Linked DNA regions of Homo sapiens: region 2 is linked to region 1. A link means that fine-mapping ties the variant in region 1 to the expression of a gene that starts in the linked region. Tissue or cell type: cerebral cortex. Region 1 holds a variant in brackets; the other region holds the start of a gene. All regions are shown on one strand. Distances are between the middles of the regions.

What was found.
Region 2: it holds the start of LINC02798, and the variant in region 1 is fine-mapped to the expression of LINC02798 in cerebral cortex (GTEx, PIP 0.90).

What each region holds. Positions count from the first base shown.
Region 1 is chr1:121,436,233-121,440,622 of GRCh38, forward strand. The region is part of intron 1 of LINC02798 (long intergenic non-protein coding RNA 2798); the gene reads left to right. Among named protein-coding and RNA genes, the nearest start is that of SRGAP2-AS1, 41 kb to the left of the region's middle. The variant G/T (reference allele first, on the strand shown) is at 2,014.
Region 2 is chr1:121,393,297-121,397,686 of GRCh38, forward strand. LINC02798 (long intergenic non-protein coding RNA 2798) reads left to right here and starts at 2,276. Exons shown (of 2, transcript XM_047438024.1): 1 at 2,276-4,008. The coding sequence starts at 2,588. The coding sequence ends at 3,631. It overlaps SRGAP2-AS1 (SRGAP2 antisense RNA 1), which reads right to left. Exons shown (of 4, transcript NR_104189.1): 2 at 4,185-4,370. RefSeq lists a silencer at 2,353-2,647.

The DNA of each region.
Region 1 (4,390 bases):
TTTACCCTAGAATAGCTTATCTGGAGAAAATTTCCTTTAAACGTGAAGGAGAAATAAAGACTTTCCCAGACAAACAAAAGCTGAGGGATTTCTGGGGGATTTCATCAACACCAGACCTGTGCTGCAAGAAATGCTAAAGGGAGTCCTTCAATCAGAAATAAAAGGACATTAATGACCAATAAGTAATCACTTGAATGTATAAAACTCACTGGTAATAGTAAGTACACAGAATATCATAACACTGTAACTGTGGTGTGTAAACTACTCTTATCCTAAGTAGAAAGACTAAATGATGAACCAATAAAAATAATAACTACAACAACTTTTCAAGACATAAGCAGTACAGGCTGGGCACGGTGGCTCACGCCAGGAGCACTTTGGGAGGCCGAGGTGGGTAGATCACCTGAGGTCAGGAGTTCAAGACCAGCCTGACCAGCATGGAGAAACCCTGTCTCTAGTAAAAATACAAAACTAGCCAAATGTGGTGTTACATGCCTGTAATCCCAGCTACTCAGGAGGCTGAGGCAGGAGAATCACTTGAACCCAGGAGGTGGAGGTTGCAGTGAGCCGAGATGGCACCATTGCACTCTAGCTTGGGCAACAAAAGTGAAACTCCGTCTCAAAACAACGACAACAACAAAAAAAGACAAAGGAAGTACTATATGATATAAATAAAACAACAAAATAAAGTGTAGTTTTTGTTAGTTTTCTTTTTGCTTGTTTGTTTATCCAAGCAGCGTTAAATTGTTATCAGGTTAAAATAATGGTTTATAAGATAGTATTTGCTAGCCTCGTGGTAACCTCAAACCAAACAACATACAATGGATACCAGAAAATAAAAAGCAATAAACTAAATCATATCACCAGAGAAAATCACCTTTACTAAAGGAAGAGAGAAAGGAAGGAAAGAAGGAAGAGAAGACCACGCACACACAAAAAGACACAGAAAATAAATAACAAAATGGGAGGAGTAAGTAAGTCCTTACTTATCATTAATAACATTGAATGTAAATGGACTAAATTATCCAATCAATAGACAACAGCCAATGATCTGTTGTCTACAAGAAACACACTTTAGCTTTAAAGATACACATAGACTTAAAGAACTGAAAAAGATATTCCATGCCAATGAAAACCATAAAAGAACAGGAGTAGCTGTACTTACATCAACAACTATAGACAAAAACTATAAGAAGAGACAAAGAAAGTCACTATATCATGAAAAAGGGGTCAATTCAACAAGATGATATAACAATTGTAAATATATATGCACCCAACACTGGAGCACCCATATAAAGGAAATATTATTAAACCTAGAGAGAGAGAGAGAGAGAGACATAGGTCCCAATATAATAAAAGCTGGAGACTTCCACACCCCACTTTCAGCATTGGACAGATCTCCCAGACAGATAATGAACAAAGAAATATCAGAGTTAATCTATATTATAGACCAAATAGATCTAGTAGATAGTTATAGAACATTTCATCCACGAGCTGCAGAATACACATTATTCTCCTCAGCACATGAATTATTTTCAAGGAGAGACCATATGTTAAGTCACAAAACGAGCCTTAAAACATGCTAAAAATTGAAATAATATCAAGCATCTTCTCTGATCACAATGGAATAAAACTAGAAATTAATAACAAGAGGAATTTCTGAAACTATACAAACATAGAAATTTAACATATGCTCCTGAGTGACCAGTGGGGCAATGAAGAAATTAAGAAGGAAATTGAAAAATTTCTTGAAAGAAATGATAATGGAAACACAACATACCAATATCTATGGGATATAGTAAAAGCAGTGCTAAGAGAGAAGTTTATAGCTATAAATGCCTACATCAAAAAAGAGGAAAAACTTCAAATAAACAATCTAATGCCGTATCTTAAAGAACTAGAAAAGCAAGAGAAAACCAAGTCCAAAATCAGTGAAGAAAAGAAATAATAAAGATCTGAGCAGAAATAAATAAAATTGAAAACCATAAAAAAGATCAATGTAACAAAAAGTTG[G/T]TTTTTTTATAAAGTTAAACAAAATTGGCAAACCTTTAGTTAGACTAAGAAAAAAAGGGAGAGCATTCAAATAAATAAAACCAGAAATTGAAAAAAGAGACATTACAACTGAATCTGCAGAAATTCAAAGGATCATTAGTGGCTATTATGAGCAATTATATGCCAATAAATTGGAAAATCTAGAAGAGATAGTCAAATTCCTAGATACATACAACCTACCAAAATTGAACCAAGAAGAAATCTAAAACCTGAACAGACCAATAACAAATAACAAGGTCAAAGCTGTCATAAAATATCTCCCAGTAAAGAAAATCCCAGGACCCAATGACTTTACTGCTGAATTCTACCAAACATTTAAAGAAAAACTAACACTAATCCTAGTCAAACTTTTCCAAAAAAAAAGAGGAGGAAGGAATACTTCCAAACTTATTCTATGAGATCATTTTTACCCTAATACCAAAATGAGACAAAGACACATCAAAAAAAAGAAAAGTACAGGCCAATATCTCTGATGAATATTCATGTAAAAATCCTCAACAAAATGCTAACAAACCAAATTTAACAATACATTAAAAAGATCATTCATCACGATAAAGTGGGACTTATCCTTGAGATGCAAGGAAGATTCGAAATATGCAAGTCAATCAATGTGATACATCGTATCAACAGAATACAGAATAAAATCCATATGATCATTTCAATTGATGCTGAAAAACTATTGAATAAAGTTCAACATTCCTTCATGATAAAAAAGAAACCCTCAGAAAACTGGACATAAGAGGAATGTACACAACATAATAAAAACCATATGTGACAGACCCACAGCTAGTATCATATTTAATATAGAAAAACTGAAAGCCTTTCCTCTAAGATCTGGAACACATTAAGGATGCCCAATCTCACCACTCTTATTTGACATAGTACTGGAAGTCCTAGCTAGAGCAATCAGACAAGAGAAAGAAATAAAGGGCATCTAAATTGGAACGGAAGAAGTCAAATTATTCTTGTTTGCAGATGATGTGATCTTATAGCTGGAAACACCTAAAGACTCCACTAATAAACTTTTAAATCTTATGAATAAATTTAGTAAAGTTGCAGGGTGCAAAGTCAACATACAAAAGTCAGTGACATTTCTATATGCCATCAGTGAACAGTCTGAAAAAGAAGTTTAAAAGTTATCCTATTTATAATAGCCACACATAAAATTAAATACCAAGGAATTAACCAAAGAAATAAAAGATCTCTGCAATGAAAACTATAACACACTAATGAAAGAAATTAAAGAGGGCATCAAAAAATGGAAAGGTATTTTATGTTCATGAATTGGAAGAATTAATATTGCTAAAATGGCCGTACTACCCAAAGCAATCTACAGATTCAATGCAATCCATGTCACAGAAATAAAAAAAAACTATTCTAAAATTTATATGGAATCACAAATTACCCAGAGTAGCTAAAGCTATCCTAAGCAAAAAGAATAAAACTGAAGGAATTACATTACCTGACTTCAAATTATACTACAGAGCTATAGTAACCAAAATAGCATGGTATTGGCATAAAAACAGGCACATACACCAATGGAACAGAATAGAGAACCCAGAAACAAATCCACACACCTATAGTGAACTCGTTTTTGACAAAGGTGCCAAGAATATAAATTGAGGAAGAGACAGTCTCTTCAGTAAATGGTACTGGGAACACTAGATATCCATATGGTGAAGAATGAAGCTAGATCTCTATCTCTTGCCACATAAAAAAATCAAATAAAAATGGATTAAAGACTTAAATCGAAGACCTAAAGCTATGAAACTACTATGAGAAAACTTTGGGGAAACTCTCTAGGACATTGGTTTGGGCAAAATTTCTTGAGTAATACCCCACAGCACTGGCAAGCGAAGTCAAAATGGACAAATGAGATCACATCAAGTTAAAAAGCTTCTGCACAACAAAGGATACAATCACAAAGTGAAGAGCACCCCACAGAATGGGAAAAAATATTTGAAAACTATCCATCTAATAAGAGATTAACAACCAGAATATGTAAGGATTCCTAACAACTCTATAAGAAAAGACTTAATACTCTGCTTAAAAAATAAGCAACAGATGGCTGGGCGTGTTGGCTCATGCCTGTAATCCCAGCGTTTTGGGAGGCCTAGGTGGGCGGATCACCTGATGTTGGGAGTTTGAGACCAGCCTGACCAACATAGAGAAACCCCGTCTCTACTAAAAATACAAAATTAGCCAGGCATGGTGGCACATGCCTGTAATCCCAGCTACTCGGGAGGCTGAGGCAGGAGAATTGTTTGAACCCGGGAGGCGGAGGTTGCACTGAGCTGAGATTGTGCCATTGCACTCCAGCCTGGGCAACAAGAGAGAA
Region 2 (4,390 bases), 43 kb before region 1:
TAAATAGGTTATGTGAGCAAATAAATTGGGAGGCTACTCTAATCCAGCGAAAAAAGGTAGTGACTTAGGTGAGAATGCTGTCAGCATGAGTGGTAGTAGTGGTGAGAAGTCGTTAGGCCATGGATGTATTTCATAGGACTGGCCAAGAGAACTGCAGCTAAATTGGAGTGTAGGGAGTGAAATAGAGAACTCAAAGATGACTCTCAGCAATGGAAGGTGACAGCTGTCACTGAAGCATGCTGATGCCTCTTATTAAGAGAGTTACTTGGGAATGGCAAGATCAAAACTTCTCACTTTCAAATTTATGAAAAATATTGTTTTCAGAATGAGTGACTTTGGGATCAGAAAGCCACCATTCTAATTGATGGTTCCACGACTACACGGGCTCACACTCGCAAGAGCAAAAGTAAATCATCACAAAGGTGCTTCTTGATAATTCTAGAGAATGGAGAATTACTGTAACATCTTTCTGATTTTAGGAGAGGTAGCAGTTCCCTTTTTAGCCTAAACGCTATTTCTTTTTAAAGCTCAGCCAAGAGACTCCATTATAATTTTCAAATGTGTGTAACTTAAATTCTCATATGAAATACCACTATGCTTAAATTAGTCAAAACATTTTCCCCATCTACAACTCTATCTTGTCATTGTAATCATTTTCACAAAAGTGACTGCAGCTCTCAGACCCTAAAAAGAGAAAATCCAGGGTAGTTTATCTGATCTAGTTAGTTTCGAAGACAGGATCTAGAGATTATTTAATATGAAATGGGTCACCTGAAATGAAGTGTTTACTGAAAACAGCTTGGATCAGCCCAGTTTTCTACCACTGAACCATGCATTTGGTTTAAAAAACACAACAACTCTGGGGAATATCGGCTGCTTCCAACTGTGTTGAAGGTGTTAAAGAAAAGAGCATAAAATTAAAAATGATCATCTGAGGCCTTTATAGTCTCTGCTCAAGAGACTAGAGTTTTCCATTCTTAACTAAACACCCAAATATCTTAATAATTGGGCAAAATCTAAATATCAGAGATAATTTTATCTTGAAGATTGTTAAATTATAATGGTGATTCACTAGCTTGCCACGTCTCTGAGTCAAAAATTAGGTCTTTGTTTAGGAATCAATCATAATCTGCAATTTGGAAATAGGAAGATTTTAGAAGACTCAGACATTGACTTTCTTCTGTGCAAAAAAAAAAGACGTATTGAGATAAGACAAGTCTTTCCTTGCAAGGATACCTCTAATGCTCATACACCACCTCCCCTAACATTAATAGAGCTTCCAGGTCACTAACCAGTGTCAGAGAGCAGCCCATGCAACTAGAAATTCAAAAGATGTCGAACATAGGGTCAAGCTTAGAATAAGACGTCTTAGCTAATTAAGTATGCTTTTTTCCCGAAATTCATATTAACAAAATCTTGGATATGTCAGAGAATGCATTCTAAGTTCACTCAACCTAGGAGGGAGAAACATAATTTTAAATTAAGAGCTGAAGCATTCTTGTCCTAACACAAAGCAAGGAAAACGAAATATCACACCACAGGAGGGATTTCACAAATTTGCGTCAACATCAAAACCTTAAAATAGGCAAGGAGAATGCAGATTCACAATGAACTCTTGTACTTGTTTTGTTCAGAGGAGAGATGGTTCTGAGAGAATGACAGTGAACTAACCCCAGCTGGTTTAGTTGGTGCTTTCAACTACTGCTTCTGATCAACTCCTTTAGCTAGAATAAATTGATGAGGATTTTGGCATGTGGTATTAGAGATGGTTATTAATTTTTTCCTCTTATTTGCATTGTTCAATATAGTAAATACTAGCTGTATATGGCTACTTCAATTCAAATTAATTACAATGAAATATACTTAAATATTGAATTTCTTAGTCACTCTTGGTTCATTATTGAATATCTTCAGCTAAGATTTCCCAACTAAAGACACTAAGAGGTGGCTTAGTTAACTGGTCATCCACAAATATTGAAGCTGCTGTTAACTCCTGATATATTCTCTGCAAGGAGAATACTCATAAGCCTCCTCCTGAAATCAGCAGCCTAGAGATAGTTTTATAAACTGGATACAAGTTGGAAATCTATATACTCTTTAAGTGTTTGAAATATTAGCTTCCCAGGGAAGAAAATCAAATTCATAAGATATGCTAGGACAATTTAACTCAAGATGTTCAAAACTGAAATGACATATTCTACAACATGTGATAAAACCACCCCCTAACAACTTAAAGCAAAACAGGGATGGACCTTAAAGACCTGCCTTTTCCTCATCCCCCAGCCAATCAGTTTTCAAATCTTGCATTTTATTTTGAAAGGTCCCTATCCCCCTGGTCTCTTGTTTCTAGACTTGGCACATATTTAAGTTTGTTACCTCTCTCTACTGACTTTTCTCTCTTCAAACAGTATCTATGCCTGCCAAATGTGAACGTACAAGAAACAAATCAGAATGTGTCATTCTGATTTAAACTGCTTATTAGTTAATACCCTCAAGATAACATCTGGGTTCTTAGCTTCAATGAGTCAAGCCTACTTACATCTTTTTGTCTTTGGCTGCTCATTTCCTATCACATCGCACTCCAGCAATGCCAAGCTGTGCCGGCCTTCCACTCCATCTCCATTATTTCGCCCTCCACCGCCGCCGCCACGGCTTTTTGCCCCCCCGCCGCCGCGGCTTATTCCCCCCACCCCGCCTCGGCTTTTTGCCCGCCGCTGCTTTGTGCCCCCCCGGCGCCAGGGCTTTTAGCCCGCCGCGGCTTTTTGACCCCTTGCCGCTGCGAATTTTGCCGCCGCGGCTTTTTGTCCCCCGCCGCTTTTTGCACCCCGCCGCTTTTTGCACCCCGCCGCTTTTTGCCCCCCCCGCCGCCGCGGCTTTTTCCTCGCCGTGGCTTTTTCCCCCCTGCCCCCACGGCTTTTTACCCGCCGCGGCTTTTTGTCCCCTGCCGCCGCGACTTTTTGCCCCCCGCCGCCGCGACTTTTTGCCCCCACCCCGCCTCGGCTTCTTGCCCGCCGCGGCTTTTTACCCCCCGCCGCCGCGGCTTTTTGCCCGCCGCGGATTTGTGCCCCCCTCGCCGCCGCGGCTTTTTGCCCGCCGCGGCTTTCTGCCACACACCCGCCGCCGCGGCTTTTTGCCCCTCCGCCGCCGCGGCTTTTTGCCCCCACCTTGCCTCGGCTTTTTGACCGCCGCGGCTTTTTGCCCCACCACCGACACAGCTTTTTGCACACTCGTCGCCTTGGCTTTTTGCCGCCGCGGCTTTCTGCCCCCTCGCTGCCGCGGCTTTTTGCCCCTCCGCCACCGCCGCTGCTTTTTGCCCCACCGCCGCCGTGGCTTTTTGCCCGCCGCAGCTTTTTGCCATCGCGGCTTTTTACTCGCCACGGCCTTTTACCCGCCACGGCTTTTTGCGCCCCGCTGTCACGGCTTTTTGCCCCCCTGCCGCAGCGACTTTTTCGCCGCCGCGGCGTTTTGCCCCCGCCGCCACGGCTTTTTGCCGCTGTCGCCGCCGCTTTTTGCCCCCGCCGCCGCGGCTTTTTGCTGCCGCGACTTTTTGCCCCGGTCGCCGCCGCTTTTTGTCACCGCGACTTTTTGCCCCCGCCACCGAGGATTTTTGTCCCCGCCGCCACGGCTCTGAGGGCAGGAGCGGCAGACTCGGCTGCCAGCTCTACTGGCGTCCTGGCAAGGGCAGCGCCGAGGGGTGCTCCTGGTCCAGCTCTCCTGGCTCAGGGATTCTTTGCCTAGGCGCCGGCGCCCCGGGCTCCTTGCCTAGGCCCCTGTGGCCTGCATAGAGTGGCGCTGCCTGTGGAGGCGGTGGGAGAGAAGAAGGAGGGCGGTGGTGGGGGTGATGCGGCGGCCACGGAGGGTGGCACAGGGGCTGCGGCCAGCCGGGCGCTGCAGCAGTGCGGGCAGCTCCAGAAGCTCATCGTCATCTTCATTGGCAGCCTGTGCGGGCTGTGCACCAAGTGCGCTGTGTCTAACGACCTCACCCAGCAGGAGATACAGACCCTGGAGGTAAGGGGTTCGGGGACCCGGGCTGGGCTCCAGGAGCGGCCCGGACACCTCCTTCGGGGGCCCCAGTTCACTCCTGGCCGAGTTGCATCTTTGAGCCCACGTCACCCCCTTGGAGGCTTCCCCTCCCTCCTGCACTCGCTGATGCGGCAGCCAGAGGACCCAGGACCAGCCCTCACCTTGGGCAGGATTTGTGGAGCGGGTGCGTGGTGGGAACTGGGATGGAGGCTCCAGGGTCCCGTGGGGGTGGGGGTGGGCTGCGTGAGGACATCCCCTTACCCCCTGAATTTCCATCTGGTCCAGCCCTCTCATCTTGTAGGTGAGGAAACCGAAGGCCCGAGGGAGAAATGACTTGCCAGGAACCCCTGTTAAGGAAAATTAACAA